Linked DNA regions of Homo sapiens: all the other regions are linked to region 1. The links come from fine-mapping of genetic effects on gene expression. A gene starts in region 1. Each other region holds a variant in brackets. All regions are shown on one strand. Distances are between the middles of the regions. Region 1 holds the start of SBF2-AS1 (SBF2 antisense RNA 1). Region 2 holds the start of MIR4485 (microRNA 4485). Region 3 overlaps SBF2 (SET binding factor 2).

What was found. PIP is the estimated chance that this variant, and not a neighbour inherited with it, causes the effect.
Region 2: its variant is fine-mapped to the expression of SBF2-AS1 in lymphoblastoid cells (GTEx, PIP 0.99).
Region 3: its variant is fine-mapped to the expression of SBF2-AS1 in whole blood (INTERVAL, PIP above 0.99).

The regions. Positions count from the first base shown.
Region 1 is chr11:9,753,289-9,763,885 of GRCh38, reverse strand. It overlaps SBF2-AS1 (SBF2 antisense RNA 1), which reads right to left and starts at 5,593. Exons shown (of 3, transcript NR_036485.1): 1 at 5,383-5,593. LINC02709 (long intergenic non-protein coding RNA 2709) reads left to right here and starts at 4,353. Exons shown (of 3, transcript NR_033972.1): 1 at 4,353-4,457; 2 at 6,043-6,119; 3 at 6,988-9,116. RefSeq lists enhancers at 1-217, 7,255-7,314 and silencers at 5,144-5,263, 5,384-5,783.
Region 2 is chr11:10,504,028-10,514,624 of GRCh38, reverse strand. AMPD3 (adenosine monophosphate deaminase 3) reads right to left here. Exons shown (of 15, transcript NM_001025389.2): 14 at 9,966-10,076; 15 at 7,046-8,917. The coding sequence ends at 8,741. It overlaps RNF141 (ring finger protein 141), which reads left to right. Exons shown (of 6, transcript NM_016422.4): 6 at 1-2,952. MIR4485 (microRNA 4485) reads left to right here and starts at 6,299; the gene lies at 6,299-6,355. It also overlaps the pseudogene MTRNR2L8. RefSeq lists an enhancer at 2,736-3,646 and a silencer at 5,209-5,503. The variant C/G (reference allele first, on the strand shown) is at 5,303.
Region 3 is chr11:9,800,530-9,811,126 of GRCh38, reverse strand. SBF2 (SET binding factor 2) reads left to right here. Exons shown (of 40, transcript NM_030962.4): 31 at 2,125-2,226; 32 at 2,942-3,127. It overlaps SBF2-AS1 (SBF2 antisense RNA 1), which reads right to left. Exons shown (of 3, transcript NR_036485.1): 2 at 1,843-3,279; 3 at 1-867. Among named protein-coding and RNA genes, the nearest start is that of LINC02709, 46 kb to the right of the region's middle. The variant C/T (reference allele first, on the strand shown) is at 5,298.

The DNA.
Region 1 (10,597 bases):
AACTCTGAGGCCCCACCACAGATCTATCAAATCGAAAACTCTGGCAGTAGGGTCCAGCAGTCTGTGTGTAACAAAGTTTCCAAGTGACTTTGAGGCACCACTTCTATAAGGTATCAAGCTGTTCATCCCTCCATTTGCTGTCCATCCAGTAACCTAAAATTCACACATCCACCAATCTAAACAGCCATCATCCAACTGTCCATTTCTCAATGTAATTCAACCATCTGTCTTAGTCAGTCTGAGCTGCTACAACAGGACATCCACAGACTGGGTGGCTTATAATCAACAGAAATGTATTTCTTGCCGTTCTGAAGGTTGGAAAGTCCAAAATTAAGGCACTAACAGATCTGGTGTCTGGTGAGGGTCTGCTTCCTGGCTCACAGAGAACTAGCTATCAACAATCCATGTTCACATTCTGTCCAGCCACCTGTGCCTATCTATCTAATCTGATGTAGTCTAGTCTATCATCAGCCTAAATAGTCATCATCCTAAACATTCCTTTATTTATGTTACATACATCTACTCACTATCCTCACAACTCATTTATAATACAAAGGAATGTCTAAGTTCTGGTACCCACCATACCCACCTCCCCTTTCTAAGGAAAATGGACACAAACATTTCTTTCTGCTTAAAGTTTCAGGATCATATCATGTGTATTAAGTGAAATCAGTTCTATTTCTCTGGGCAGCAACCCTGACTGGACAAGGGGCAGGTTCTTGGGGTTCCTCAACTAAAGGCAACTGTGTTTGTATGTGTATAATCTTAACATATATACACACACATATATATATAGTAGCTTATGTATTACACACATATATGATATATTCTATAGATATAGATCTGTCAGACATATGCGTACATATATAACTTCAATAGCTTGCCATAAAACTCTGCCCAAATGAGGTTCTCTGTACTGGATGGTGACAGACTTAGCCAGTCATAAACATTCTCTTCCTTCATTTTCTTCCTTGGAGAGTGTGAATGTTTGGTCTCACTGAGAAGTCAGGTCACTTCAAGCTCCAGTTCTATCCTAACAATGGTAAGCTATGTTCCAGTTTTCAATTAAGCCTGCTGAATATACCTGCCTTGAAAGAGTGGGATTTAGAGTGACCTTACAGTTCAGACAGAAACAGCTTTGCTGCTGGGCGTGACTCTCAACCCTGCATTTAGCCCTCATTATCCAAGACAAATGTCAAGCTGCCTCTGCTGGAGGGTGGAGCTAGACAGCCACACTATACCACGTATCCTCCTTGTCCACAGCTGATTTGAGCAGGGCCACCTCACCAGAGGGAGGTCGCACCCATATCCCATCCATCAGCAAATCCTGATTACCTTCAAAATACGTCCTAAACTGGACCACTTATCACTGCCCTCACCACTGCCACCCTGGTCCAAGCCACCAACATCTCTCACCTGGATTTCTGCAGTTGCCTCCTAAGTGGTCTCCCTGTCTGTCTCCCTTTCCCACCTTGTCCCTTTCAGTCTATTCTCATCACGGCAGCCAGAGAGGTCCTTTTTAAAATCTAAGATCATGTCATTTCTCTGTTGAATATCCTCTAATGCCTCCCCTCCTTCTTGGAGTAAAAGTCTAAGTCCTCACAATGGCTTGTAACACAATTCATGATCTGTCCTCTGCTACCCGTCTGACCTCATCTTCCACCATCCTCCCCATGTTCACACAACATCAGCCACACCAGCCTCACTGATGTTCCTCACACAGTGCCACACAGTTCCCACCTCAGGACCACTGCACTTGCCACGCCCTCTTCCTAGAGCATTCTTCCCCCAGATATCTTCACGGCTCACCCCCTCAATTTCTTCAGATCTCTGCTCAAATATGACCATATCAGGGACACCCCCTCTGAGTATCCTATATGCAGCAGAAACCCAACCCCTCCCCAAACTGCTCCCTGCTTTATTTTTTCCATAGCATTTAACGTCAGCACACATGTAACTGCCTACTGTCTCTCTCTCCTCATTAGAAAGTATGCTTCATAAATGCAGCAACTTTGTTTTGCTTGCTATTTTTCAACACGTAGGAGCTTTGTTGAGGTACAAACAGTCACATAAATAAGCACTTGGTAAAAACTTGTAGAAGGAATGAGTAAGAGTGGCTGAGAGTAGACCATGAGCAAGAAAATCGAGCAGAGGGAGCCTGCTGAGACAGGAATGAGTACAGAGAAATGTGAGAAAGAGAGGAACCTTGAGGTCCTCGGGAGACGGAGAGAAGAGCCACCGTTCCTGACTTTCCAGTTCCAATCTTCATGAGGCCTGAATGTCAGTGCTCTCTGCAAGGTTGTCCACTGTATTCTCACAATTGTACTCCTCATTCTTGAAAACATTTGGAGTTTTCTTTGTTCCTTGCAACAAAAACAACCTTGACTTGAGCAGTATCCTTCCAACCATCCATCCACCCATCTCTCCAACCCTACATGCCCTCCTAATCATTTATACTTCTTTTTTTTTTTTTTTTTTTTTTTTTGAGACAGTTTCACTCTTGTTGCCCAGGCTGGAGTACAATAGTGCAATCTCAGCTCACTGCAACCTCTGTCTCCTGGGTTCAAGCGATTCTCCTGCCTCAGCCTCCTAAGTAAGTGGGATTACAGGCATGCACCACCACACCTGGCTAATTTTGTATTTTTAGTAGAGACGGGGTTTCACCATGTTGGTCAGGCTGGTCTCAAACTCCTGACCTCAGGTGATCAGCCTGCCTCGGCCTCCCAAAGTGCTGGGATTACAGGCATGAGCCAACGTGCCTGACTGATCATTTATACTTCTAATCATCTGTCTACAGATCAGTCCACTAGTCCATTCATCCCTATAAGCATCCATTATCCTAGAGTCCACCCATCACCCATCGATCCATATAACCAACAACTATCCATCCACATGTTACCCTTTCATAACCTCCAGGTAGAGGGGAGTAAGGTCATGAAGGATCTCATCACAGGGCTGAGGCCATCCAACTTTAATGCTGAAAAGTGGGAAGCTATGGAAGGATTTTGAACAGGAAAGTTATATAGTTGGACCTGTATTTTAGAAAAATAACTCTGACAGCTATAAGCAAGATAGATAGGTCTTACTGTCTAAAGGCGGGAAGACCAGTTGGGGTAATATTAAAATATTCCAGATGATGAATTAGGGCAGAGACACAGGGGCTTCAGAAAAGAAGATTCAAGGGAGAGACAGGAAAGCAGCTCTGGGAACAAGCCCAAGCCAGAAGGGCAGGCCTAGATGGAAAACTGTCTAATAGGGGGCCTCAGTTTTGCAATCACCAGCTCAGCCCAAGCACTGTATTTGCCCCAGATCTCAAGTGGAACCAGGCCTCCTGCACATTCTGCACATTTGGGGCAGAGTTCCCAAGAAGCCCAATCCAGAACCAGTCCTCTCTGGGCCCTTCAGCAGAGCACTCTGTCCTGCATCTCAGGTCTCTGAGTAAGTGGTATTTCCAGAGTACACATGCCCCCACCAACTCATCTCACAGCTCAGCCTTGGCTACAGAAAGCCAGGGCCTCTTCTTTGTTAATTTTCTTCAACTCCTCAGAGGTTGGGCCTCCGGCCCAGTGAAGTCAGGGTCTGGGAGGCAGCCCTGGCTCCCTGCCCGCCCACAGAGGATATATTTGGAGCAAGACAACTCCTTCTGGACACAGAGCTTGGGACCCACCCCGCAGGGCTGCCCCAACCAATTTTACTGAGTATCCACGCAGTGTGGTTGTCACTCACGTTTTCACTTGTTAGTTCATTCATTTGTTTACTCATTCATTCATTCCACAAACATTTATTGATCTGCTGGTATGATGCAGCAGGTACAACAGGATGTGTGGTGGGCACATATCTGTATATGTGTGTATATGGGTATCTCTAAGCAAGGATGGCAGAACACACTCTGGGTGCCCTCCCTCAGGGTTCAGTGGTGATGATGACTCACACTCAGGTGTATATGGCATCTGTGGGGACCTGTGTGCAAGTACATGCAGGCACGTGCTCTCTGAGGAGGTAGCTATGACTCAGTGGCACGCGGCATCTGTGGGTATCTGTGTGGATATGTGTCTGAGTGCAGGCATGAGCATAGGCGCTTGCTCCCCAGGGGGTGGGGGAAGTGGTTGTGACTCAGCTGCACATGGTGACTGGGAGCCTACAGGCCAGCTGTGACTTTATGGCTTTGCTTATTTGCCAAGCCAAACAGTTAGTGTTGGGCGTAAATATTCTATCAGAGTGTGCATGGAATAAGTCCTGAGCTAGGGACCTCCAGCAGGCAGGAGAGACTCAGTAGTCTTGGCCCAGCAGCATCTGTCCCCCGCCTGCCCCCTCCACCGTAGGTATACAGGTCCTACCCTCCCTCCCTCGCCCTCTCCACTCCTGCCTCCTGGAGACTCAGCGAGCTCGTCCCTCATTGACTCTACATCACCCCTCACCCACCGGTCCCAGGTGCACACACGAGACCAGGCCCAGAGGTACAGGGCTGTGGCCTTCGAGCTGCCAGCCCAATCCATTTTTCTACCATACCAAAAACCCCTTCTTTTTCAGCCCTCATGACCGCGTCTTCCTCCAACATCCCAGCCCCGGTCGTAGGCTCGGCAAGCCCGCTCCAGGGCCCACTTCCCATCTCGGCGGCCGCAGACCCGCTGCCTCCCCATCGGCGCGGCCCCATCTTCACCTCTGAGCTCCTTGCCCCTCTCTCCCTGGCTGTCTCTGTCCTTATCTGTCCCAAGTCTATCTTTGTCTCTTCTCGAGCCGGGCTGTCTGCAGCAGAGGCTTCACCAGAGTGGAGGTGCTGACAGAGTGCGGGGTGTGGGGAGGACAATCTGTGTCCCTTCTTGAGCCTTATCGGGAAAACTTAAGTCACTGCTCAGGGCTCAGACTGGAATTTCGCCCTAGATGACCTTGCTGGGTCTGCTGGGGCCTCCGCAGGGACAGCCAGGGTCAAACGAGTCAGGAAACAGGCCCCTGCTTGTGGGCCGCCTGCCCGCCCTCATCCCAACCAGGCCGCCTGCAGCGCCCTCGGCGGGAGACGCCGGGGAGGGGAGAGAAGGGAGGAGACGGGAGGGGCGGCCCCGTCTTGGGCACTCGCAGGGACTGGCGGGAGGCCGTGTGGGGCTGGAATCGTGACCACGGATGCCGCAAGGCCACAGGGCCCTCCTCGGGGTCCCGGCCGGAAATCCTCAGGGGCCCGAGGAGGAGCCGGGGCGGCCACCCGACCACCTCCCCGCGGGCCGCAGGCAGGCGGCGCGCCGTACCCGCCGAGAACGCGGGAAGAGGCCATCGCGTCTGGACACCTGGGCTTCGTCCCAGAGCCGTCACTGCTGTGTCCCCTTGGGCAACTGCCTAGCTCCCTGAGCCTCACTTTTCACACCTGGAACATAGGAAAATTGCGCCCACCTTCTGGGTCGTGGCAGATAAAATGAGTTCACGTCAGGGCTGGCTCTCAGGAGGCGCTCAGTGCTCGTGGCTTTCCTCCCCGGTGGACAGAACCCCGGGGCAGCTCCCCGCGCCCTGACGCCCAGAGCGGAGCGGCCCGGAGCGGAGCGACCACCGCACACTGGACCCGACCCTAGTCGGCCCCGCGCGCCCGGGTCGGGGCTGGAACCTGCGGGCGTGGCGCACGCCTGCCACCTGGCGGCGAAGCCCCCAGGCCGCCCGTCCCGCCCACGGCTGCGCGCGTGCGCAGGCCTGCACCACCCAGTCGCCCCCACCACGCCGCGCCCCGCCTCCCTCGCCCAGGGACTTCCTAGGCCACGCCACGCCGCTCCACCAGCTCAGGGAACCCCCTTGGCCGTGCAGACCTGCGCCACAGGGTCGTTTCCTCCCCTCCTTCCCTCGAAAGCGTATGCATTTCGTTGCCCCTGGAACTGGGGTCATTTCAGGACCTCCCAAGGAGGGTCAGGATGGTGGTATTGGCCTTAGGGGACGCGGGCTCAGGTTGGCGGTTGAACCGCATGTTCCTGTTTCAAACAAACCTAAATGTAGGCCTGGAAGGCTGTGCACTGAAATCCTAGTATTAGGTTGGTGCAAAATTAATTGCGATTTTTGCCATTGTAGGTTGTCTGCAGAGTGAGATTATGGCGAAGCATTTTATTCTTTTTACAAACCTGCTTTTTCTCAGTTTTCCACATTGGGTATGTATTGGTGATAAGGAAAAAAAAACTACAAAAGATATTTTTTGAAAAAAAAAAATCACATGGAGAGAGAGAAAAGGGGACGAATTGGCCTATCAAGGGGGTTTCCGGAAGTTAACTTTCTAGTATCTCTGTTTGCATGTAGACTCCCAGGGTGCCCTGGGAGAAATGGAGAAATGAAGCCCAGGACATGAGGCATTGGGATGGATGGTCCATCTTTCACATGTGCTGGGATTAACTTCCTTTAAGAAAAAAGGAAGGCAAAAGGGTTCCCAGCCTTAGGGTTGGGTGGGGTAGAGGCTCCAAATAAACCAGAAACTCTTGAGTAGAGGTGGTCAGTCATTGCTGTCTGGTTCAAGCGCTGATTGGACCCAAGGGGACCAGATCCAGGATATATTTGAGAACAAGGAATTTATTTCAGAAAGGGGCCACTCAACAGTCAGCATTTACTAAGAACCTGCTTGGTACAGGGTGCTGGAACTACCACAACGAGGCTGCCCCTTCCCTTAAGGAGTTCTGGGCTGACTTTTGGGAAAGTTCATCAGCGGTGACGGGTAGTGAGTGAGGCAGATCAGCAGGAACATTACAAGCCGCAGGAACCGTCAGCTGCTGATAGAGGCCCTGGGAGGTAGAGTGGAGAACAGCTCTGGCCACCACAGCTAATGGCCACCAAGGGAGCGACAGGACCCTTGAGGGGAGAGCAGAGGCTGGAGGTCCTTGGGGTCTACTGGGAGGTGGCAGTCACAGGCCCTTGGGTCCTCTCCACAGCCTTGCTGGAACCTTCCAAAGAGCAGGTGTGACTGGGGAAGTGTGTTGCTGGGCTGTCACCCTCACCTGGGACCTCCTCTGTGCACTCATCCATTCACAGATTTGCCAGCTACCTGCCTTTGCAGGACACCTCAGAAGTTACAGACTTGCCTGTGGAAATGCAGAGAGCACCTGAGGTATTTCCCGGACTCTCCAGTAGTAGCCTTGAATGGCTGACCAACCGCAGTCACCTGCCAGATCTTCTCAGAACCGGCCAGCCCACCAGCGACAGGCCCATTAAGTGGCCTGGCCCAGCCCAGATGGAAAACCCCCTCCACGTGACTTTCTAAAGAACATGCATGAAGACAAAACACCAGGTGCCTCAGGTGTGACACCCTGAGGACACATCACCTGTACAGTATCCTAACCCACCCAAGATGACACAGTAAGGTAAAACCACAGTAGAGCCCAGGCCTGTTTGACTCTGAAGTCCAGGCTCCTTTCCAACTTAGTGCCCTAAAGGCCTGATTGGGGTGGGGGTAGGCAGGAAGATTCAAGCACTGATTGTTTGTAGCCCAGGCTGGGAGGGCAACAGCTCTAGAAAAAAAGTCACTCACTGCTTTAACCATCTTCCAGCTAACTGCAGTGAGGTGTACAGGGCCATGGGGCTCTGGGATGAACTCTTCCACCTCTACACCTTGTAAACAAGGATTCCAGACACACCCTCCAAATGGGAATGGAGACACACGTTTGGCAGAGTTGGACAGTAACGCTGCTCTCCTATCAGCCTGGACTTTGAGGGGAGTGGAAAACATGAGTGTGGAGGTGCAGCAGTCCTGGTATCCCCTGAAACCAGCCTGTGGGGGGAACAGTCTTCCCAGGGGAGCTGCTCAGGATCGTCCTGGTCCCATGCATCAGGAAGAAAAGGGAACCTGAGAGCAGAGGGAAAATGCAGAAAGTGGGGCAGGGAGACTGCTCCCTGAAACCCCCATGGGCTGCTGGTCCAAGCAGAAAGTGTTGTCGGAGGGGGGAGAGGCAGGGTGAAATGGGACAGGAAACGAGGACTTCCGATGAGGAGGAGGAGGGGGCAGTGGGCTGCGGGTCTTGGGGACTGAACAGAATGGGGTTTGCTAGACAGAGCTTTCGTCTACCCACTCCTGAAGTCCTGCTGGACCTCAGCTGGCCCTTGTGAACTGTTGAGGGGGATATAAACACAAAGGCCTGCATTCCTGTGGGTGCACAATCCTAAGAGACCATGGACTGCCTGTGTGTGGTGGGAACAGGAAAAGGAGGCTGAGTGTAGCCCTGCTTGGAATTTAGTGTCCACCACAGATGTATCCACTACCCAGGGCCAAAGACTCGGCAGCCTCAGAAGACTCAATGGAAGCTGAGCACAGGACTAGAAAGGGTCAGGGCCCTCCTCTGTATGTAGGGGTGGCACATGGCCACTAGCTGGGTGATGGGGCACTGAGAAATTAAATGTTTGACATAAAAATGTAATCAGGACCCGAGAGGAGGTGGGTGGTGTAATGAACAGCATCCTAGAAGTCCGGTACAGATTTCACGTGTCACCTTCTAGTTCCTTATCTGAAATTGAAAGGTGAGGTCAGGTGCAGTGGCTCAGGCCTGTAATCCCAGCACTTAGGGAGGCTGAGGAGGGCATATCATTGAGGTCAGGTGTTTGAGACCAGCCTGGCCAACATGGTGAAACCTCTACTAAAAATACGAAAATTAGCCGGCTGTGCTGCACACGCCTGTCGTCCCAGCTACTTGGGAGGCTGAGGCAGGAGAATCCCTTGAACCTGGGAGGCAGAGGCTGCAGTGAGCTGAGATCACACCACTGCACTCAAGCCTGGGCATCACAGCGAGACTTCTTAAAAAAAAAAAAAAAATTTAAAGGTGAGCCAGTTCAGGCTTCTAGAGGCACTGCAGTTACAGACGGTAAACTGCACAAATCCTGGGTGTGAAGCTGTTTTTTCCTGTGTAACCACCACCCATTGACAGCATCCCAGAAAGTTCAAGTGTGTCCCTTCCCAGTTTACAGCCACCCGCCTCCCACCCTCACTTCTAAATCCACCGATTAGCAGTGTGTCTTGGAAATTAATATACAAGGAATCATATAGTATGTGCTCTTTTGTGTTTGGCTTCTTTGCTCAAGATGTCCGTGAGATTCAGCCGGGTTGCCTCTCTCTGTAATATGTTAATTTAGGTGTAGTATCCATTGTCTGGAAATACAATTGTCTATTCTCTACTGGTGGATATTTGAGTGTCTCTGGTTTGGGGCCATTATAATAAAACTGTTGTGAATCTTCTTATACAAGTTTTTTGGTGGACATCAGCCTCATTTCTCTGAAATGAGTGGAAACTGCTGGGCCGGAGGGTAGCTGTTGTTTTTAGCTTTAGTGGATATTGCCAAGTAGGAAGTAGGGAGGTGATTATTACAGTCTCTAATATATAAAAAAGGAGTAGAGGGGGAAAGAGAGGAAAGAAATAGAGATTCCATAAACTATTCCCAAAACTGATCCTTTAACAAATCTGGAGCACCTCCTCTGCACTGTAAAAGCTGAGGAGTGCCTCTTCCCACGCTTTCATATGTCTTGATCTTATTCACCTGATCCTCACCCCACTAGGGCAGCTGTGCCTTGCTGGAACTACCCAGAAGGTTGCAATTAAAGCTTGGCCAGTTAGAACAAGCACAAGCGCTGTGCGGGACACATCACTACCTGAGTGGCAAATCTGAAAATTCATTCCTCACAAGCTGCTAAATGGTGCTGACAGACCCACCCTGTGTTTCACCACCTGGAAAGAAATCAGGGTTAAGGCAGCTTTTACACTTCATGCCTCAGCAACTTGCATCATAGTCTTTTAAAATATATCCAAAGCAACCCCCTCCAGAGGCTCTGGGTGTGTCAGAGGTCCCTGCCCTCTGCTCTCTGCCAGCTCACAGAGAAACAGGCATTCTCCCTTCCAGGTGCTCCTCATTTGCACTGAAGAGGTCAGTCAACTCCTAGGACATCTGAAAGGGAAACCCTGACTCCAAGGGTTATATTGTGTTCTGGATAATAGAACTTGCCTTTCTGTAGAGCAGGTTTTCTCAACCTTGCCACTACTGACATTTTAGTCCACATAATTGTTAATGGGGGCTGTCCTGGGCATTTTAAGATGTTTTGCAGCATCCCTGGCCTCTACCTACTCGATGCCAGCAACACTCCCTCCAGTTGTGACAACAAAAAATGTCTCCAGACGTTGCCAAATGTCCCCTGGAGGGCAAAATTACCACCAGTTGAGAACCACTGTGATAGAGAAAGAACAGTTTTTTGTTTTTGTTTTTTTGAGACGGAGTCTCCCTCTGTCGCCCAGGCTGGAGTGCAGTGGCATGATCTTGGCTCACTGCAAGCTCCGCCTCCCGGGTTCACGCCATTCTCCTGCCTCAGCCTCCCGAGTAGCTGGGACTACAGGCGCCCGCCACCACGCCTGGCTAATTTTTTTGTATTTTTAGTGGAGACGGCGTTTCACCGTGTTAGCCAGGATGGTCTCGATCTCCTGACCTCATGATCTGCCCGCCTCAGAAAGAACAGTTTTTAAACACACCAACCAGTGTCCTCTCCCTCCCTCCAAGAGGGAAAGATCAGCTTTCCAATATACAATCAAGCTGGCCTGAGTGGGCCCACTTAGTCCACAACAGGCATTTTATCTTGGCAACAATGCAAACCACAACAAACAAACAAAAA
Region 2 (10,597 bases), 750 kb before region 1:
CTTCCAGAGGCTTCTAAAACACTACTGTTTTGCAGGGCAGGAGTATTCTGGAATCTTTTTACTTAGATATAAAATAAACCTCGAATATTAAAAAGTTGTAGCCATCTGAGAGAGGAAAGTTTAAGTGACTGAAAATGTAGAATACTTCAACGTGCATGTTACTACTTAAAACTAGTCTTTCTGCTGGAATCTAAGGAGTATATATATATATGCCCCCTTGTGGTTAATTATTGCTCCTTTAATAATTTTTACTTGAAATGATCCACAATTATTTCATAACTTTAGCAGTGTGTTTTGGAACTACTGTACTTAAAGGTTTGTTTGTTTGTTTTTGCCATACTGTATAATTTGGGTGAGGTCTACAAAATTGGGTGTGACTTTCCTTTGCAAATGGATTTCTCCTGGGGAATTTTCTTGGCTGTTCTGGAAATGCTTTCCCACAGCTGGGTAACTGTTCTAAATGGCTTTGATAATGCTCACACATCTTGGAGTTTCAGAAGGAAATTATTCTGCATCACAAATACTAAATTTTATATTTCTAAATTACTATAGGTCATTTAATATTGGTTTATGGTGCTTTTATTTCCTTAACTTGAAAACATCTTTCTGAGATTTCAGAGTCCTCAAATTTCTTAGATTAAGAGACAAGAGGCCAGTGCAGTGGTTCACACCTGTAATCCCAGCACTTTGGGAGGCCGAGGTGGGTGGATCATTTGAGGTTAGGAGTTTGAGACCAGCCTGGCCAACATGGCGAAATCCTCTCTCTACTAAAATACAAAAATTAGCTGGGCATGGTGGCAGGTGCCTGTAATCTCAGCTACTCGGGAGGCTGAGGCAGAATTGCTTGAACCCAGGAGGTGGAGGTTGCAGTGAGCCGAGATCACACCACTGCACTCCAGCCTGGGAGACAGAACGAGACTCCTAATCAAAAAAAAAACACAAGAAAATAGAGTGAGGCTTTTTTACCGTATATACATAAAATACTTATGAAAATTAGAAGATAATTTGGCATTCCTACTGTTTCACTGTACTTCCATTGAAATACTCTTTCCATTAAAATATTCTGAAACAATATAGTAATAATGGAATTGTGATCTTCAGTTGCACCTCAACCATTTTTTTTGCTTATGAACTAAAATTTCTAACATTAACATTTCGGCATGTAATAAAACAAGGGCCTATCTCCTTTAAAATTTAACATTCCATGTAACTTTTCTGACTTATCATTCATAAGTTGCAAATATTACTATTTTCCTAAACCAGGGTACACAATTTAAGTTGCCACTTATTGATGACAGAATTTCTGGATAGTAGGATTTTAATAGGCGAGCAAATAAAATTCAAATCAATTTCAAGGAAAAACATCTGGCCAGGGGTAGCTTGATTTCGCCCCCAAAAATACTGAAGACTAATCCATTGACATTCATAATGGGACAGCTAAGTACCAAATAGCTAACTACTCCCTATGGAGGTTTATGCAAGCAGAGTACCAGGGGTTCCATCATATCAACCTGGCAATGCACTTGGTGGTTGTGTGACCTTGAGAAAGTCTCTTACTCTTGTTTATGTGTTCTTACTTTAGAAACTGAGACTTTATTTGTGGTTTTCACACTATTTCAGCAGCAAAAACTTTTTCAAGGAAAATCTTACAGAACCTTTAAACACGTGTGCATACACACATACCCTATACCCCACTATATAAAAGTCATATTATTATAAATTTCCTTATTATATAAACTTTATATACTATAAATGTGATTAAGTCAATGAATAAAAACATTAATGCATTGGTGATATCCAGCATGTTTGAATTTGGTGAGTAACACACATATAGTGGGAGTCGTTTTTTTTAAAAAAATTTTTTAATTAAATTCAAGTCAAATTTGCAGAACCCTGTATCTCCTCCATAGATTCTTAGTATTCCATGGAACATATTTTGAAAACCTTGGGATAGATGATCCACTGAAATCTTTTCCAGCTCTAAGATTTTAAATTGTCCTTTTAGATTAGACTTGCTGAGTTTAATTCAGATTACCTAATTTTAAAATGTTTCTGAAAAGTGAACAGAGTTACCTTACAGAGTTTTGGATCTTTCCAGGGATAGCCAATGATTTTATCCCCCAGAATCCTTCACCTTTCAAGGAGTTATTTAACAATGAGCCCAGTGACTCAATAGGGCCCAAACCTTTTTATTTTACAATATGAGCTCCAAGACACTTACTGATCTACTGTGAATATAAAATGTTATTAGCCTTATCAAATAAATAAATGAGCACAGCTCTTTGTTCGCTCTATTGAACTGGGTGATAATTATTTAGATGTGAATGTTAGGTCAGTTCTACTGTAATAACTAATCGTAAAAGTTGTAAATTTGTTTAATGGATGAAATGTACACTTTTTGTATTCTGTACAGCTTTGTCTTTTTTAAATATGAAGTACTTAAATGTACTTACTATGATAGGAAATATAATGTGTGCCTTCTAGGATTTGTGAAGTGGTTTCATGAACTCTAAGGAATTTGTTTTCCCTATCCTAACTCAGTAACAGAGGGTTTACTCCGATTATGTATAGAACCTTAGTTTGAGAAAATGAATTTTACTATGTACTGAATTTAGAGGTTGAGAATAATAGGATCTGTGTTATTCTTAGTACCCACTGATAAATTGTGCAATAAATAATCTTTCGCAAGTGATTTTAGCTAATTGAAGAGATTATTTTCCTATGTAATTTCACATTCTAATATACTAAATGTTTATATTCCTTAGAGAACTATTTTATATTGTGCGCTGGGGGCTTGTGATGTTTGTGTGCTGTTTTAAAATTCATTTCAAATTGGACTCGATTTCCTTATATCTAATATATATCTGGGAGAAAAGGCTGCTTGAAAATATCTTTTGATTCAGTGATTTTTAACATTGGGAAGTTGAGTTTATTAAAAGGTAGTCTGAAGAATTTGCATTTTTAACTGCTATTGTCTGAAGTCAAGCTTAGTCTATCCGGGAATAAGAAAACTACTTGCAGATGAGGGAAGTTAACAGGTCACTCACATTCATGCTGGGCCACACAATGACGATACAATACAAACCTAAGCAGCTGACAACAGACTCATTTGTTCGTATGTCTATTCACCCTGCTGTAGCAGTCCTCAACCTTTTTGGCACCAGGGACTGCATTCATGGAAGACCATTTTTCCACAGACCAGGGTTGGGGTGGGAATAGTTTCGGGATGAAATTTTTCCACCTCAGATCATCAGGCATTAGTTAGATTCTCATAAGGTGCATGCAACCTAGATCCCTCGTATGCGCAGTTCACAGTAGAGTTCATGCTCCTTGAGAATCTAATACCGCTGCTGATCTGACAGGAGGTGGAGCTCAGGCAATAATACTCACTCGCCCGCGGCTCAACTCCTGCTGTGCGGCCTGGTTCCTAACAGGCAGCAGACCAGTACTGTCCACAGCCCAGGGGTTGTGGACCCCTACCCCAACAGACAGCAAAAATAAAATGCTCAACCCTATTGTAGTTTGTTTACCTTGTAAAATCATTTCCAAAATATAAGAATGTAATTAGAGAAACATCGTAGAATCTTAGTGCTGAAAAGTGCAAGGACATAAGAATGAGTGGCAGTTGGTAGTTAAATTGACTGTATCATCATACTGTGGAGAAATGCACATTTTACTGTCAAAATACATAAAAGCCTTTGCAGAGATAGGTTTTGACACGCTTGCAGCTGTTTATAGTCTTACTCTCTGTCATCTTCTATCTTACTAATTGCAAAAATTTCCAAGGAACTGTTTATCTGGTTAGTATTCCCCTAGTTACACTTGTTCTTTATAATGATCATAGTTCAGGCAGAGTATTTGGGTATATCACCTTCAGTCATGTCTCAAACGCAGGAAATGAAGAATATTGTTTCACCAACACTCAGAAGTAAAGAGAAAGCAAGAGAAAAGTGCTTTCGGCTCTTGTTTAATCCAAGAGGCCGTGAAAAATCACAACCCAGGAGCTGTGATTTGTTTTCACGAGGCAAAGAGCAATGATGTCGATCGGTTTCAGCGGTACAATTTGAAGTAACACATAAAGTGAACTTGAGCCCTTAAGGATAAAGAAGGGATAACTGCCTCAAAAACTGTTGCTTTAGAAACCTAAGCCAGTATACAATTAATTGCCTCTTATTCCAGTTGCAAACACAAAGGAAAGTAGGGATTTGTCCCCCAAAAGGCCAATTAAGTATAGCAATGTAATAAAAGCACAAAGTGCTATAGAAAAGATGTCAGAAAAGCTTGCAGGACACCGCTGCTAGCCCCATACCCCGAGCCAACCAAACCCCAAAGACACCCCATACAGTTTATGTAGCTTACTTCCCCAAAGCAATACACTGAAAATGTTTCGACGGGCTCATATCACCCCATAAACAAATAGGTTTGGTCCTAGCCTTTCTATTAGCTCTTAGTAGGATTACACATGCAAGCATCCCCGCCCCAGTGAGTCACCCTCTAAATCACCACGATCAAAAGGAACAGGTATCAAGCACGCAGCAACGCAGCTCAAAACGCTTAGCCTAGCCACACCTCCACGGGAGACAGCAGTGATAAACCTTTAGCAATAAACCAAAGTTTAACTAAGCCATACTAACCCCAGGGTTGGTCAATTTCGTGCCAGCCACCGCGGTCACACGATTAACCCAAGTCAATAGAAACCGGCATAAAGAGTGTTTTAGATCAATTCCCCTCAATAAAGCTAAAATTCATGTGAGTTGTAAAAAACTCCAGTTGATACAAAATAAACTACGAAAGTGGCTTTAATGCATCTGAACACAGAATAACTAAGACCCAAACTGGGATTAGATACCCCACTATGCTTAGCCCTAAACTTCAACAGTTAAATTAACAAAACTGCTCGCCAGAACACTACGAGCCACAGCTTAAAACTCAAAGGACCTGGCGGTGCTTCATATCCCTCTAGAGGAGCCTGTTCTGTAATCGATAAACCCCGATCAACCTCACCACCTCTTGCTCAGCCTATATACCGCCACCTTCAGCAAACCCTGACGAAGGCCGCAAAGTAAGCGCAAGTACCCACGTAAAGACGTTAGGTCAAGGTGTAGCCCATGAGGTGGCAAGAAATGGGCTACATTTTCTACTTCAGAAAACTACGATAACCCTGATGAAATTTAAGGGTCGAAGGTGGATTTAGCAGTAAACTAAGAGTAGAGTGCTTAGTTGAACAGGGCCCTGAAGCGCGTACACACCGCCCGTCACCCTCCTCAAGTATACTTCAAAGGACACTTAACTAAAACCCCTA[C/G]GCATTTATATAGAGGAGATAAGTCGTAACATGGTAAGTGTACTGGAAAGTGCACTTGGACGAACCAGAGTGTAGCTTAACACAAAGCACCCAACTTACACTTAGGAGATTTCAACTCAACTTGACCGCTCTGAGCCAAACCTAGCCCCAAACCCATTCCACCTTACTACCGAACAGCTTTAACCAAATCATTTACCCAAATAAAGTATAGGCGATAGAAATTGTAAATCGGCGCAATAGATATAGTACCGCAAGGGAAAGATGAAAAATTGCAACCAAGCATAATACAGCAAGGACTAATCCCTGTACCTTCTGCATAATGAATTAACTAGAAATAACTTTGCAAAGAGAACCAAAGCTAAGACCCCCGAAACCAGACGAGCTACCTAAGAACAGCTAAAAGAGCACACCCGTCTATGTAGCAAAATAGTGGGAAGATTCGTAGGTAGAGGCGACAAACCTACCGAGTCTGGTGATAGCTGGTTGTCCAAGACAGAATCTTAGTTCAACTTTAAATTTACCCACAGAACCCTCCAAATCCCCCTGTAAATTTAACTGTTAGTCCAAAGAGGAACAGCTCTTTGGACACTAGGAAAAAACCTTGTAAAGAGAGTAAAAAATTTAATACCCACAGTAGGCCTAAAAGCAGCCACCAATTAAGAAAGCGTTCAAGCTCGACACCTGTCATCTAAAAAATCCCAAACACATAACTGAACTCCTTGCACCCAATTGGACCAATCTATTACCCTATAGAAGAGCTAATGTTAGTATAAGTAACATGAAAACATTCTCCTCCGCATAAGCCTACATCAGACCAAAATATTAAACTGACAATTAACAGCCCAATATCTATAACCAACCAACAAGCCATTATTACCCCCACTGTTAACCCAACACAGGCATGCCCACAAGGAAAGGTTAAAAAAAGTAAAAGGAACTCGGCAAATCTTACCCCGCCTGTTTACCAAAAACATCACCTCTAGCATTCTCAGTATTAGAGGCACCGCCTGCCCAGTGACATGCGTTTAACGGCCGCGGTACCCTAACTGTGCAAAGGTAGCATAATCACTTGTTCCTTAAATAGGGACTTGTATGAATGGCTCCACGAGGGTTCAGCTGTCTCTTACTTTCAACCAGTGAAATTGACCTGCCCGTGAAGAGGCGGGCATAGTATAACAAGACGAGAAGACCCTATGGAGCTTTAATTCATTAACGCAAACAACACTTAACAAGTCCACAGGCCCTAAACTATCAAACCTGCGTGAAAAATTTCGGTTGGGGCGACCTCGGAGCACAATCCGACCTCCGAGCAACACATGCCGAGACTTCACCAGTCAAAGCGAATTACCACGTTTAATTGATCCAATAACTTGACCAACGGAACAAGTTACCCTAGGGATAACAGCGCAATCCTATTCTAGAGTCCATATCAACAAGGTGTTAGCTGGACAGACTAAAATAATACCCCGGGAAAAGGAAAGGAACATGTATAGCTTTGCTCATGAACTATAACAGGGTAGAAGTTAGAGAAAATAACAAAGGAAGATTTATCTTCTGGGTCTGGTGAGCTTCAGTTTGAAAATTTTGAGTTTTCCTAGTGAATGTCATTCATGTCGGAGTCTTAGTAAAAGATAAATTAGCTATTATTATTGATAGCTTTTCATGGTGCCCAATCTTAAGAGTAAAAATCTTTAACATTTGCTTTAAATATGATTATCTTTAAATAGTTTTAAACTATTGAGCCACAGTCCTAGCTGACTTTATTTAACAATTTAAAAAAAGATACTTGATACAGATAAAATGACAATGAGAAACTACACAATACTTCCTATGTTAGGGCAAATGTATATAAACGGGGGCTTTTCAAAACTAATCCCTAAGATAACAATGGATTTTCATTCAATTTCATAATTAGCTGTAAGATAGCATATATATCTGCCTAGTAAAAAGACTGCATTTATACTTCCATATGCTGAATTGACCAGTGGAGGGGACAGGCATTATAAAGTCACAAGATGAGACAATCTAAAGTCAAATAAGTTCACAGGCAGAAACTGGATTCTTCTTCTAACTATAATGATTCAAAAAGACCTCCTGTAGTCTGAATTTGACCACAGAAATAGATAGGAAGGTCCTTGAGCAGCCTCTTAAGTACTAAGAGCACATGTCCTTAAAAAGTTGCCAAAAGAAATTCACTTAGTTATTCAATATGCATTTATTGAGCACCTACTACATACCAGGCACTAGTAACACAGATAAAGAGTACACTGATAAAGCTTAATTCAGATTAATCTTTAAAAATGCTTTCTACTTGGCCCCTGGGACCATTGTATCTTCTGAAGTCATCATAGTAGATAAGGGAGAAATTTTGCCTTAAAAAAATGCATCCGGTTACAGTGATTAAAAACACACACACACACACACACAACTAACATTTGTGGGGTCTAATGGAATAGTGGGGAAAAGACAGGATTTGGAATAAGGAAATCCAGTTTAGGCCTATTACTTATTAGCTGTGTGCCCTTAAGTTAAATTTCACTTATCTGGCCTAACTCTTAATTGGTAAAGTGATAATTGGCCTACAGTTGTAGCATATTAGAGCCAAAAGGAACAGAGATCATCTAGTCCTGTGCTTTTTGAAGTTCTTCGTTCAAATGAAAATATTATGTAGCAGCCCCAGTGTAAAACTGATGAACGCAGTCACTTTGACAGCCCCTGAGCATCACTCACTCCCTTCCCTCCCCTACCCTAAAGTATTCATGAGGAGATTCACAGAACACCCTGAAAGCCACTCATCTAGTCCAAACCCTCACTTTCTAGGTGAAGAAACCAAGACTCAGAATAGGAGTGGCTGTTTTCATGAGTACATTTGGCTTCCAACTAGAAAGAGGGAAGGAGGGCTAAATAAAACGGTTTAAGAAATTCACTAAAAACACAATTTGTCAAGAAGGAAGTCTTCCATCTTAACTCCTTCAAAGTAGCCCCTTTATGAAATGGAGCTTTGAAATTGATTGTGTTTAAGGCAGCCAGCCATCCAGAGGCTGAAATGAACAACTACCAATTAGCCTACCTGGGCCAATGGAGAAAAGTATGGCAGAAAACCACATGTTACTTGGCATCTGACCAGGGAAAATCCTGGCCCCAACAGTTCAGGCACTGGCAGTTTCAAGAGAAATACTTGGAAAATTAGGAACAAGTATAGACAAGTGCTCAGCTCCCAGATCCCCAAGGAGAAGTCACCATCTTGTTACTCAGAAATACTAACAAGTGAGCATGTTAACTCTTAAAGTGAGCAGTGCAACCAAAATCACCAGTTTAAAATTTCTTCAGAGGCATCCTCTTCACAGAGGAAAGTCCTAGTTCGGAATCTTGACCACTATTAGCCACAGCAGACTTGAAATTGAACCAAAAAGTTAAAATGCATGTCAAATGCTGGACCTAGTTGGTCAAGGCGGTGATCTCTTCTGATTTCATAGCATCAGACAGGAAGCTGAGCTCATTGCATAAGGTCTCATATCGGAATGCCATCCGGATCTGAGCCACATTTGTCTTTCGAATATCATTTCCTTCAGGTCCTTCTTTATAATAATTTTGTCCCAGAAACTTTTGCTTTTCCTGTGGACCAAGAGAAATACAAATGAAACTATATACTTTTGATTCACTTTCTATAGCCATGTGGGCAGCTTTGACATCAGTCACAGCAAGTCAGACTAGTCCCCCTGAAGCAGATCTTTGGTCAGGACATCTTATCCCCACAGAACTCTTAAAATTCCTGCTGGCCTCTGTGTCCTCAAGGATGTCACCCTGACAACCTCAGTCATCCTCAGACAGCCCTTCATTCCTGGCTGTGCTTTCCTTGATCAGAGAGGAAAGATAAGGTCTGCAGCAGCTGCTGGGGATGGGAAAGGCAAAGGGGAAGGAGGTAAGACTCTAATTAAGAAGCCCCTGAGAGCTGACAAGGACAATGTTCCTGGGGAGGGCCAATCCAAGGCACCACACTGCGCATGAAAAGAATCTTAAGCCTTTAACTCTGCTGCATCATCATCCGACGAGCACAGCCCCTAATGCAACCTCTTCCCAACCAGTGACATCACCCAGGGAGGTGTCGGGGGACCTAACGTACATCAGAACATGGGTCTCAGTGCCAGCTCCTCATCAGGCTTTTTAAAAAATGACAGATGTCTGAGTCCCATAGTCTAGATTTTTATTCAGTCTAGATACTGTTCATCTATTCAAGAAATATTGAGCGCCTGCTATGTGCCAGGGACTATCTAGGGCCCGGGGATATAATTCTGAACAAACCTCTGCCCTCACAGAGCTTACATGCTAGAGGGAAAGACAGAAAAACACATAACTAAACATCAGCAGGAATAAATGGTATGGAGAAAAACTGATTAAGGGGATAGAGAATAATAGCAAGTGTGTGGCTATTTTAGAATGGGCGATCAGGGAAGGCCTCTCCAAGGAGGCGTAGAGGTCTGAGAAGGGTGAGGAAGCAGCCATGAAAACACAGGAGGCTGCCGCGTCTTCTCTCCCTGTGCCTGAGTGTCTCAGAGGCCCTGCCTGCTATGTTCATCACAGATCCCCAGTGCCTGGAAGGCTCCTGGCACACAGCAGGCAGCCTTCCCAGGAGGGACACAGGCAGCACCGTCACACTCCATACCTGATGCGAGAGGCCGCTCTGCAGCACGCTGTTCCTGGCGATCTCACACAGGTCGCAGGTGCTCAGCTTCCACACTTGAGCTGCAATGGCATATTCTTCCATAAGTGCTTCCTAGATCCTCCCCCAAAGCATGTGGATTAGAAGGGGGGATATCCATGTCAATCGTTCACACATGTCCAAAGCTAACAACATCAGACACTGCGGGTTTAACTTTTCCTCACTAAATGGCACCTGGATCATCAAACATCACACCTTCAAAGCCTAAGATCTTTTCTTCTGTAAAATCATGGGTTATCAAAGAGAGATCTAAAATCACGCCTCTACATTTATTCATTGACCAGCACTGAGACCTCATGTTGAAACCCTGTGCCAGTCATCAGGGATGGCAGTCTCTGCTCTCCTGTGACAAGCCCTCTAGTCATGCCACATTTAGCACTTGCCCTCTAGCTTTTCTTTTTAACACACTATTTTCTTAAGTTTGCAATAGATAGATAGATGATAGATAGATAAATAGATAGATAGATAGATAGATAGATAGATAGATGAGTAAAGTACTAAAAGCAGAGATGGAACATCAAAAAAAAAATGAGAAGTGATCATAGGATAAGTGGTAAAATGGTGTAATCCCAGAA
Region 3 (10,597 bases), 47 kb before region 1:
ACTTATAAGTGAGAATATGCAGTATTTGGTTTTCCATTCCTGTGTTAGTTTGCTTCAGCTGTGTTACTGCAAAGGACATAAGCTCATTCTTTTTATGGCTGTGTAGTATTCCATGGTGTATATGTACCATATTTTCTTTATCCAGTCTACCGTTGATGGGCATATAGGTTGACTCCATGTCTTTGCTATTGTGAATAGTACAGCACTGAACATGTGTGTGCATGTGACTTTATGGTAGAACAATTTATATTCCTTTGGGTATATACTCAGTAATGGGATTGCTAGGTCAAATGGTAATTCTGTTTTAAGTTATTTGAGAAATCACCAAACTACTTTCTACAATGGCTGAACTAATTTACATTCCCACCAGAAATGTATATACATTCCCTTTTCTCCACAGGCTCGCCAGCATCTGTTATTTTTTGACTTTTTAATAATAGCCATTTCTTAGAACAAATTCTGAGCCCAAAAGAATTCAGGCCTGGTGATAGCTATGTTGTAGAAACAGTTACATGAGGAGCTTCTCATTACTGAGTAGGGCATTTGCCTTATTCCTGTGTTTAAAGTAGCCTAGCTCTGTTTAAGAGATGGGTTTTTTCATTTTTGTTCTTGTTCAGAGTTGGATTCAAATTGCAAATTATGTCTGATGATCATTAAAATATTTTTTAAAATTACAATGTTATACATCTGGTTTTAAAATCTATATACTATTCTCATACCTTAATTGTTTATTAAGGACTTTGAGCCAATTGATGTGGCTTTAAAAACTTAGCACAAATATATTGAAAGTTTTTTTCTCATTTAGTACACAGTATAGACAAATAGGAGTATCTTTTTTATTTTTATTTTTCGAGACAGGGTCTTGCTCTGTCACCCAGGCTAGAGTGCAGTGGCACAATCACAGCTCACTGCAGCCTCGATCTCCCAGGTTCAAGCGATCCTCCTACCTCAGCCTCCTGAGTAGCTGGGATTACAGGCAGATGCCACCACGCCTGGCTGGTTTTTGTATGTTTTGTAGAGATGGGGTTTTGCCATGTTGCCCAGGTGGTCTCAAACTCCTGAGCTCAAGCACTACTCCTGCTTCAACCTCCCAAAGTGCTGGGATTACAGGCGTTGAGCCACCACACCCAGCCAGGAGTTTCTTTTTTAACATATAATTCACTTACCATAAAATTTATCCTTATGATAAAGGTGCACAACTCAACGCTTTTTGGTATGTCCACAACATTGTGTAACTATCACCACTATCTAATTCCCAAAAAATTAAGAATACCTGAAATAGGCCAGGCGTGGTGGTTCACGCCTGTAATGCTAGCACTTTGGGAGGCTGAGGCAGGTGGATTACCTGAGGTCAGGAGTTCAAGACTAGCCTGGCCAACATGGTGAAACCTCGTCTCTACTAAAAATACAAAAAATTAGCCGGGTGCACTGGTATGCACCTGTAATCCAAGCTACTCGGGAGGCTGAGGCAGGAGAATCGCTTGAACCCGGGGGGCAGAGGTTGTGGTTAGCCAGGATTGCATCACTGCACTCCAGCCTGGGTGACAGAGCGAGACTTTGTCTCAAAAAAAAAAAAAAAAAATGTCTGAAACAAAACTTACTACATCATGGAAAAACAAATTTTAAATCCAATAAAATTCATCTGAATTTCCGTCTTTTGTTGGGAAGTCCACATAGAATCTCTGTTTTTTGTACTCTATGGAATTATAGCTCACCTACTTTTGGGGGAATCATGTAAGGTAATTTTATTTCATTATGTATTACTAGAATGTATTGTTTTAAAATGTGTCTACTTTTTTGAAGTGTCATTTTGTTGTTGTTTTCATTGAGATGGGGTCTTACTATGTTGCCCAGGCTGGTCTCGAACTCCGAACCTCAAATGACCTGCCCGGCTCGGCCTCCCAAAGTGCTGGGATTATGGGCATGAGTCATTGCATCCAGTCAAAAGTGTCATTGTTTAATCTTGATTTGAAAGAACTTTAGGTATTTAAAACATTATGTGGTTCTTTTGTGCAAGCGCTTTATCCCTAAGTCGTTTGATTATCCAGGGTTGAAAGCAACTCTCTCTGACTTCTGCACTCAGAAAGCGCTTGGTCTAATTGTGTTCTCCTTCCTGTCTCTTAGCTTCACAGGATAATGCAGCTGGCTGTGGTTGTATCAGAAGTACTTGAGAATGGTTCCTCAGTTTTGGTCTGTTTGGAGGAAGGCTGGGACATCACTGCACAAGTAAACTATTAGACATATTTTTTGATATTTTATATTTATATTTCCATTTGGTCATTTTTAAATTCTTCAGATGACTCTTTTGTATAATGACTAATGTGTTTATGGACAGAGAAAGTCCTGTGTTAAACAGCACCTGGTATCCATCAGAAAACTCCGTACCATGAGCTCTTAGCCCCTACGCAGCCTGGAGCTCTGGCTCCGGGCATCAAGCTCTCCCATCCACAGATGTACCATGCAGGCTTGCGGATGGAGCCCTTGACCAGCAGTGTGAGGCGTGGACCATCCTTCCTGGGTTTTGTCAGTCCATCCCCTGGCTCTCTATAAGCCCCGCCTTAACTCACTCCAGAGTGAAAAGTGTGAGTTCAGACTACATTAAGACATTAATCTGCATCTGCCAAAAAGTAGAATTGATTTTAACTGATCCTCTGGCCTCTGATTAACTTAGGAAAAGGTTGCTGTCAGCAAACTGGCCAGTTAAGGATTAAAGTCTCAATTCCCTGAAAGTAAACTTGTAGCCAAAATGAATTTGAGCTTTAGTTTTTACTGGCAAGTTTACAAAATTAATTTTATTGGCCATCCTGGAATGGTTAGTGAACAAATTTGCTGTCCAGGTAAATTTGTGAATTAGCTATCATCAGAAGGAAGTGCTTTTATCTTAGTAATAGGCCTTTTTCAGAACTAAAATTAATGACAATCCATCCTGCTTATGCCCTAGGTGACATCCCTGGTTCAGTTACTCAGTGATCCCTTTTATAGGACACTTGAAGGCTTCCAGATGTTGGTTGAAAAAGAGTGGCTCTCTTTTGGTCACAAATTCAGTCAGAGGAGCAGCTTGACCCTCAACTGTCAGGGGAGTGGTTTTGCTCCAGTCTTCTTACAGTTCTTAGACTGTGTACACCAGGTAAGTAGAGCAAGCTTGAGTTGACTTGATATGAAGGAAAGAACACAACATACTAGCATTGATGGAGCATTGCGATGGTGTGCCCGGTACCTTCCTGTCATAACTCTGATTAACTCAGCCACAGGACATGCTGAAATCTTAGCAGTAGACTCCTAGGAATGGAAAAGAAAAAAAATTAGTTGGTTTCTGAAACTAGGACAGCTAAGCTGGCTGTTGGGCTTGCCCCAAGTGAAGTAGCCAGCACTCTAAATGACCATCTTCAAAGAAGAGAAGCAAACTTGGGCTTATTACCTAAGAACAAAATCTCTAGGTAATACGGGTCCTGAAATCGAGCACATGGTCTGCCCAGTTTGGGAGGACCCCAGCTTGTGCCTGGGAACATAAGAGGTAAAGCCTAACCCCTGGAGAAATAATCAGGGCCCAGCCAGACAGGCATACAGGCTTGAGAACACTGGTCACTTCTACCACATGGAGAAACTGTGGTACATATATACCATGGAATACTATGCAGCCATACAAAAGAATGAAATCATGTCTTTTGCAATGACATGGATATAGCTGGAGGCCATTATCCTAAGCAAATTGATGCAGAAGCAGAAAACCAAATACCTCATGTTCTCACTTATAAGTGGGAGCCCAGGTATATCCATTCAAATGCAGTGAGGGTAGGGGAGATGTGACTGCTCTAGGCTCCCTCCTGCCTTCATCGCAGGCACATCAGATACAGACCTCTGGATGGGGCCTTGGTCAGGATTGGGTTTGAGAATTGGATGGCACTGAGCTTGCAAGTTGAAGACTGAATTGGCCTAGGAAAAGCAGGCCTATTTCCAGCTTTCATTTGACCACAATCCCAGGGTTGGATGAATGGGTTCTGGCATGTCAAACATTTGTGGGAATGGTGAGCCTCTTTGAAACACACTGGCCTCAAATATCGATTGGAAAGAAAGGCAGAACTATGTTTTCAGGAACCAGAGTTGAAACTAACTGTGATGACACCAAGTTAGTATGTGGTTATGTTTTATTTTGTTTTTATTCTAGTAATCACTTGATCAACTTTCCAGATCACTACATAATTTTTGTAAATAACAGCTTTATTGAACTATATATATCATACAATTCACCTATTTAAAGTGTTCAGTGGTTTTGAATCCATTCACAAAGTTTTGTAACAATTACCACAATCAATTTTAGAGCATTTTATCACTCCAAAAAGAAACTCCATACTCATGAGCAGTGACTTTCCAACCTTTCACCCCACACACAGGAAGCTATGTTTTTTACTGCTCTAATTTACTTATTAAAGACAAGACCGATTGACGAATTTCAATTGATCTGTCCAAGCAGTAACTGGAGGAGCTGGTCACAAGGTTAAGCATGTACCTTTAAACTCTTTGCAGCAAAGAGTATACTATATTTGTTTTCTGTTTGAATATTGGCCCTTTTATTCATACTCCTTTTGGCAAATAGATGAGGGAGAAGTTTGGAGACCATTGTCTCTGAAACAGAAAGCTTACCTGAGGCCAAAGGAGAGGAGCAAGCATCTATCTCTTCTCACTTCTAGGCAGGTGAAAGCATATGAGTTCTTCATGAAAGCACTTCTTATCTTGCTTTTTTATTATGCTTATCAATTGGACTAGACTATTTCCTGCCTCCGTATACCACCATTACTAACAATAATTACTAATTTGTGTCGACTGCTTACTATGTGCCAGGCACTGTTCTGAGCACTACACATGTTATTTTAGTTCATAATTCTTTGAATCTTTTGCTGACCCTCACGCTCCCACTTTATATGTATTTCTAATGAGTCAGGTATAGACTTCTTTGATAACATCTATAGCACTAAAGTATGTTTATTTGTATGTAACTATTGCCCTCTACTTAGTCTGAGAATTCTTGGGAACAGGGACTATGTCATACTAGTCTTCATATCCCTAGTATCTAACACAATTACAGTTTCAGTCTCTGGAATATAATAGACAATAAATAGATAATCTCAATGAATATATGAGAATTTGAAAGACCACAAGTCTTGTTCATGCTCTTACCACCCTTCATCAAGACCATCTAGAATATCCTGGTCGGGCGTGGTGGCTCACGCCTGTAATCCCAGCACTTTGGGAGGCCAAGGTGGGTGGATCACGAGGTAAGAGATCAAAACCATCCTGGC[C/T]AACATGGTGAAACCCCATCTCTACTAAAAATACAAAAAATCAGCCAGACGTGGGGGCGCACGCCTGTAGTCCCAGCTACTTGGGAGGCTGAAGCAGGAGAATCGCTTGAACCCGGGAGGCGGAGGTTGCATTGAGCTGAGAAGCCCCCACTGCACTGCAGCCTGGGAGACAGAGCGAGGCTCCGTCTTGGGGGAAAAAAAAAAAATCTAGAATATCCTAAGTAGAATTGCTGGCATAATCTTCCAAAAGCTCAGATACAATCCTTTTATTCCCCTCCACAAAAGTCTTCAAAGCAAACAAACAAAAACCTTCAGTGGCTCCACATTTCCTAAAGAATTACCCTTCCACATATCCGATTTGAATATAACTGGGGGGAACCCAAATGTCTGTCCTACAGTAGGTGAATGGCTACACAATCTGGGATACATCCATACCGTGGACGACTACTCAACAGTAAAAAGGAATTACTGGCACATGCAACACCTTGAAGGGATCTCAAGGACATTATATTGAAAGAAAAAAAAGGCAATCTCAAAGGGTCCAACTGAGTATGATTCCATGTATATAATTTTTTTTTTTTTTTGAGACAGAGTCTCACTCTGTCACCTAGGTTGGAGTGTAGTGGTGTGATCTCGGCTCACTACAACCTCCGCCTCCCAGGCTCACGCAGTCTTCCCACCTTGGCCTCCCAAGTAGCTGGGACCATAGGTGCACACCACCACAGCTGGTTAATTTTTTGTATTTTTGGTAGAGACAGGGTTTTGCCATGTTGTCCAGGCTAGTCTTGAACTCCTGAGCTCAGGTGATCTATCTGCCTTGGCCTTCCAAAGTACTGGGATTACAGGCGTGAGCCACCATGCCCAGCTAATATTTTAAAATGACAAGATCATAAATTATTGGTTGCCAGATTCAAGATAGTGGGGGAGAAGGAAATGAGTGTGACTATAAAGGGGTAGCATGAAAAACAAACCAAATGTCCATCAACCGATGAAGAGATGAACAAATTCTGGCATATTAATTCAGTGGAATACCACTCAGCACACAAAGGGAATGAAATATTTATATTACAAAGACTGACCAATCTTGTGATCACTATGTTCAGTGAAAGAAGCCAGGCAGAAAAGACTACTACATAAGTTTATTTATATGACATTCTAAAAAGGGCAAAACCATAGTGACTGAAAGCAGATCAGTGACTGCCTGGGACCAGTGACCAAGGGAGGGGATCAATCATCATGCAAAGGGCATAAGCAAACTTTTCAGCGTCAGGAAACTGTTCTGTATCATGATTGTGGTGATGGTTACACAACTGTGTACAGTGACCAAAACTAATAAAACTATACACTTAAAGTAGGGAAATTTTATTTTTAAATAACACTTCAATAAATCTGGAGGAAAAAATAATAATCTTTAATTAGTAAGTCCAACATCTCAGTAAACTAGAGTTCCAGAGAAAGAAAACAGCAGCTACCTTGTTTCTACGGAGAAGAATTTGTCTGGGGCCCAGAAAGTACTTGTAGGTCTGGCTGCTTGCTTTATGGAAACAGGGCAGGAAATAGGTCCAGGGAAATCCCAGTTCAGTAATGCAGGCTTTTCGTTTTTTCCATGCTATTTTCAGTGTTTCCACTAACCCAGTTGTGTCTGGTGTTCCCAAGTCTAGAGCTTATCAGGTTTGTTTTTTTGTTTGTTTGTTTTTCAGAAAATAAACCTCCGATCTGTTGCTCTGAAAAGGGTAATCATATGACTACATGGGGTGGGAAAGGACCTGGGGTCCTTTCCTGCCTCCATAGACTTCCAGCTAGTCCCACGATAGCCTCCATTTCACCCCTGCATTACTCAATACTTGGGCCTCTGTGCCCTGAGCCTTTCTGGGTTTACACAGCAAATCGTTACCTTCTCAAATCATTTTCCTCCTGGCAGGAATCCCAGTATAGCTTCTCCTCTTCTATCATTTACTGCTATTCTTCCTTCTATTTTCCATCTTTCAAAAATTTGCTGAATTGCTTTGGCCCAGTGCTGTGTTTCCTCCCATTCTCCCCACTCCCTTTTGGGTTTTTTACCTCTTAAAAATTCCTTTAATGTGGGAGGATTCCAGGGGAATGAGCTTGTACAGCCAAATCTGGCTTAAGTTAAATGGACTACTTAATATGTTAAATCTCTATGTTCAACTTGCAGAATTCTGCACACCTAAACATTAGGGTCAGCGAAATAATCCACTCACAATCAGTAAGAGATAGGAGGTTCTCATGTAAGATACACTGTCCTCAAAGATGGGAACATCATTGTCTCCCAAGTACAATAATCCTTACTTGGAATGAAATTCTTCTATTTTATTATTGGGGATGGGGCTGGGGGGGAGGAGTGGGAGAGGTCTAGATGCTGGAAGGTAACCTGTATTCTGTGAGTACCCCTTAAGTGGTATGATTAAAGCAATTTAACATACACTAAGATGTAGCATAACTTACATTCCTATTATCTTTAGAATACAATAGATGCTAAAACTACAAAAGGCTAAGTTAATTAAAACAATTTGGGGTATATGCTTAATTTCTGCTGTTTTGTTTTATTTACTAATCAGCTGAATTTAAGATTCATCTGTTTTTTTTTTCAAGTAAAGAGTTAAAATTCAAATGTTTTATATAAACCAGTTGATTCTGAAATCAAAAACAGAAGTTAACTTTTAATTAAAGTTCGATTATTTGTAGGTGAATGCTTCACAAACTGTAAAAAGTAATATTGTTCAGGATCTAGAGACCCTATCAGTATGACTTCAAATCTGGCTGTGCCAAATTAAAATTTTTTAAATTAAAACATAAATTTTTAAGAATTTGCCTGAATCCTCCTTTCACTTAATACCTCATACATAATAACCTAAGTGCAGACAAGTCATAGCAAAGCAAGCATATGACCTTAATTGCAGTAAGTAAAGCATGCTTGGCTACCAGAGGTATCAGCTTTGGTGATGCAAATTATTTTGTGCTGAAAAGGGATTGTTTATTCACTCAAAAACAGAGGAATCTAAGAAGACTATAGTTAGCAAATAGTTTTTCTGACTCTTGCTGACTTAATTATAAGGTAGTGTTTCATCATCTTCGACATACTGGTTTTAGGCATTAGAAAATGCCTTCTTTGAATGCCTTTCAAGTGAACACTAGTGCTTTACATGACTCTGGCTTTTACCAGATAATTCGAATTAGTGCTGCCCTCAGTCTCTCAGGGACACACAACAGAACTAGGCCCAGAAACATCAAAAAAACAGGTTCAAAATTACACAGCAGCAAGTGAAGCTTTCCCAGATGGAATGTGTTCCCTGCTTATTAACCATTTCTAACATTGAATGCCAAAAGGCAGTCCATGGACATATGCCTAGGCTTGTCCATTAGTACTAATAAAGTTACAAGAAAACAGATGAAGCACTGAACTTAAATTAGAACTGCCTCATCATATAAAAAGCCATTGTTTACGCCAGTATATCCAGGTGTCAAATGAATTATAAATGCTAGCTCACTGTTTCATAATAGCAACATCTGGCAGATTTTTTGCTTCTAAAAGAAATTGGCTTAGCTCAAATGATATCATTACAGGACTCCCTTTTCTTAAAATAGTTGAGCCAAATTAAAAAAAATCCAATATACAAAGATTAAATTTTTATGTAAACTTTCTTTTTAAAATATAATATCAGGAGAAAACATGAATAGTATGAATGAAAACGTGAAGAAAGCATCCCCTTTATTTCGGCATTAGAGTAAATCTTTGAGGGCATCTTAGAACTTTTTCAGTATTTTTTACTGTGATTTCAAAGTTTATTCAAATTGTAAATTGATTCACTTTGGTCTGGCTTTATGTGATTCTCCTCATGGTTACCTTATGACAGCACTATGCTAGGTCCTACCCCAAAGAAAAAAGCTATTTGCCTTTTGAAGATATGAGCCTTCCTTGTGAGCACATATGTGAGCAGCTAAGCTGCCCCCACACAGGTTGGTTATTCTAAAATTTATCCAGTAATATTGGCAAAATAGCTGTAGCTAATGGATTGTTGGTATATTCAAGAGTTTCTGCTGTCTGCTGCCTATTCAACTGCAAACTGGCAAAAATGAACATAATCCAATCTGTTTTATAACAAGGCAATTTTGCATCAAAGCTTAATATTTAAGGCCATGTAATATGGAAGGATGTAACACAAAGCACACAATGTTTGTTAAATCTTAATTTGTGAAATAACAAAAATTAATATTAGCTATACACTCTCCTAGGGTCTGTTTAACCATATCCAGGTTTTCACGTGTTGATGTATAGTGTCTCTTGTAGCTCAATATTTATAATTCTGAAAGCAGAATCCAGTTTTAATGTATTAAACTTTACTTCCAAAATGTTGATCTTTCCAGGGGTTTGAGTCATAGCTTATTTTTATAGGCCTTTAAATTTTACAAAGTACTTAATGGCACATGGGCAAAAAAAAAGACCCTATAAATTCATGTTTCTCCAAATTCCATTTCAGATTCTCTTCTTATAAATAAGTGAAGTTGGCAAGTTTCACTCCATAACGGAAAAACAAAACTAAAATGCTTCATGCAGTTTAGTCTTTTAAGTCTGTATACTTTTTAACCTGCAACAAAATAAATACAAAATTATTTTGAACAACAAAATCCAGATGATACCTGAGAGAAGCCTAAAACTCTATTCATCACCATACTTAGGGAAATGCTGACATAGAATTAATTTATTAGCTGAAATACCTATCATTCCCAATTCTACATAATATAATAAGGCTAAATTTATTTGAAGCACACTTGCCTTTAGGTCCCCAAAATCTTGTGGCCAACAATAAAGAAAACTAATGAAACCAAAAGCTGTTCTTTGAGAATATCAATAAAATTGATAAACCTCTAGCTAGACTGCTTGAGAAAAAAAAGACACATATTACCAATATAAGAAATGAGAAAGATGACGTCACTACAGATTCTACAAATATTACAAGGCTGATCCTGGGTATGGTGGCTGAAGCCTATAATCCCAGCATTTTGGGAGGCCAAGGTGGGTTCACTTGAGCCCAGGAGTTCAAGACCAGCCTGGGCAACACAGCAAGACCCCACCTCTAAAAAACATAATAAATACTTTTTTTGGCCAGGCACGGTGGCTCACGCCTGTAATCCCAGCACTTTGGGAAGCCGAGACAGGCAGATCACGAGGTCAGGAGATAGAGACCATCCTGGCTAACACAGTGAAACCCCTTCTCTACTAAAAATACAAAAAAATTAGCTGGGCGTGGTGGCAGGCGCCTGTAGTCCCAGCTACTCGG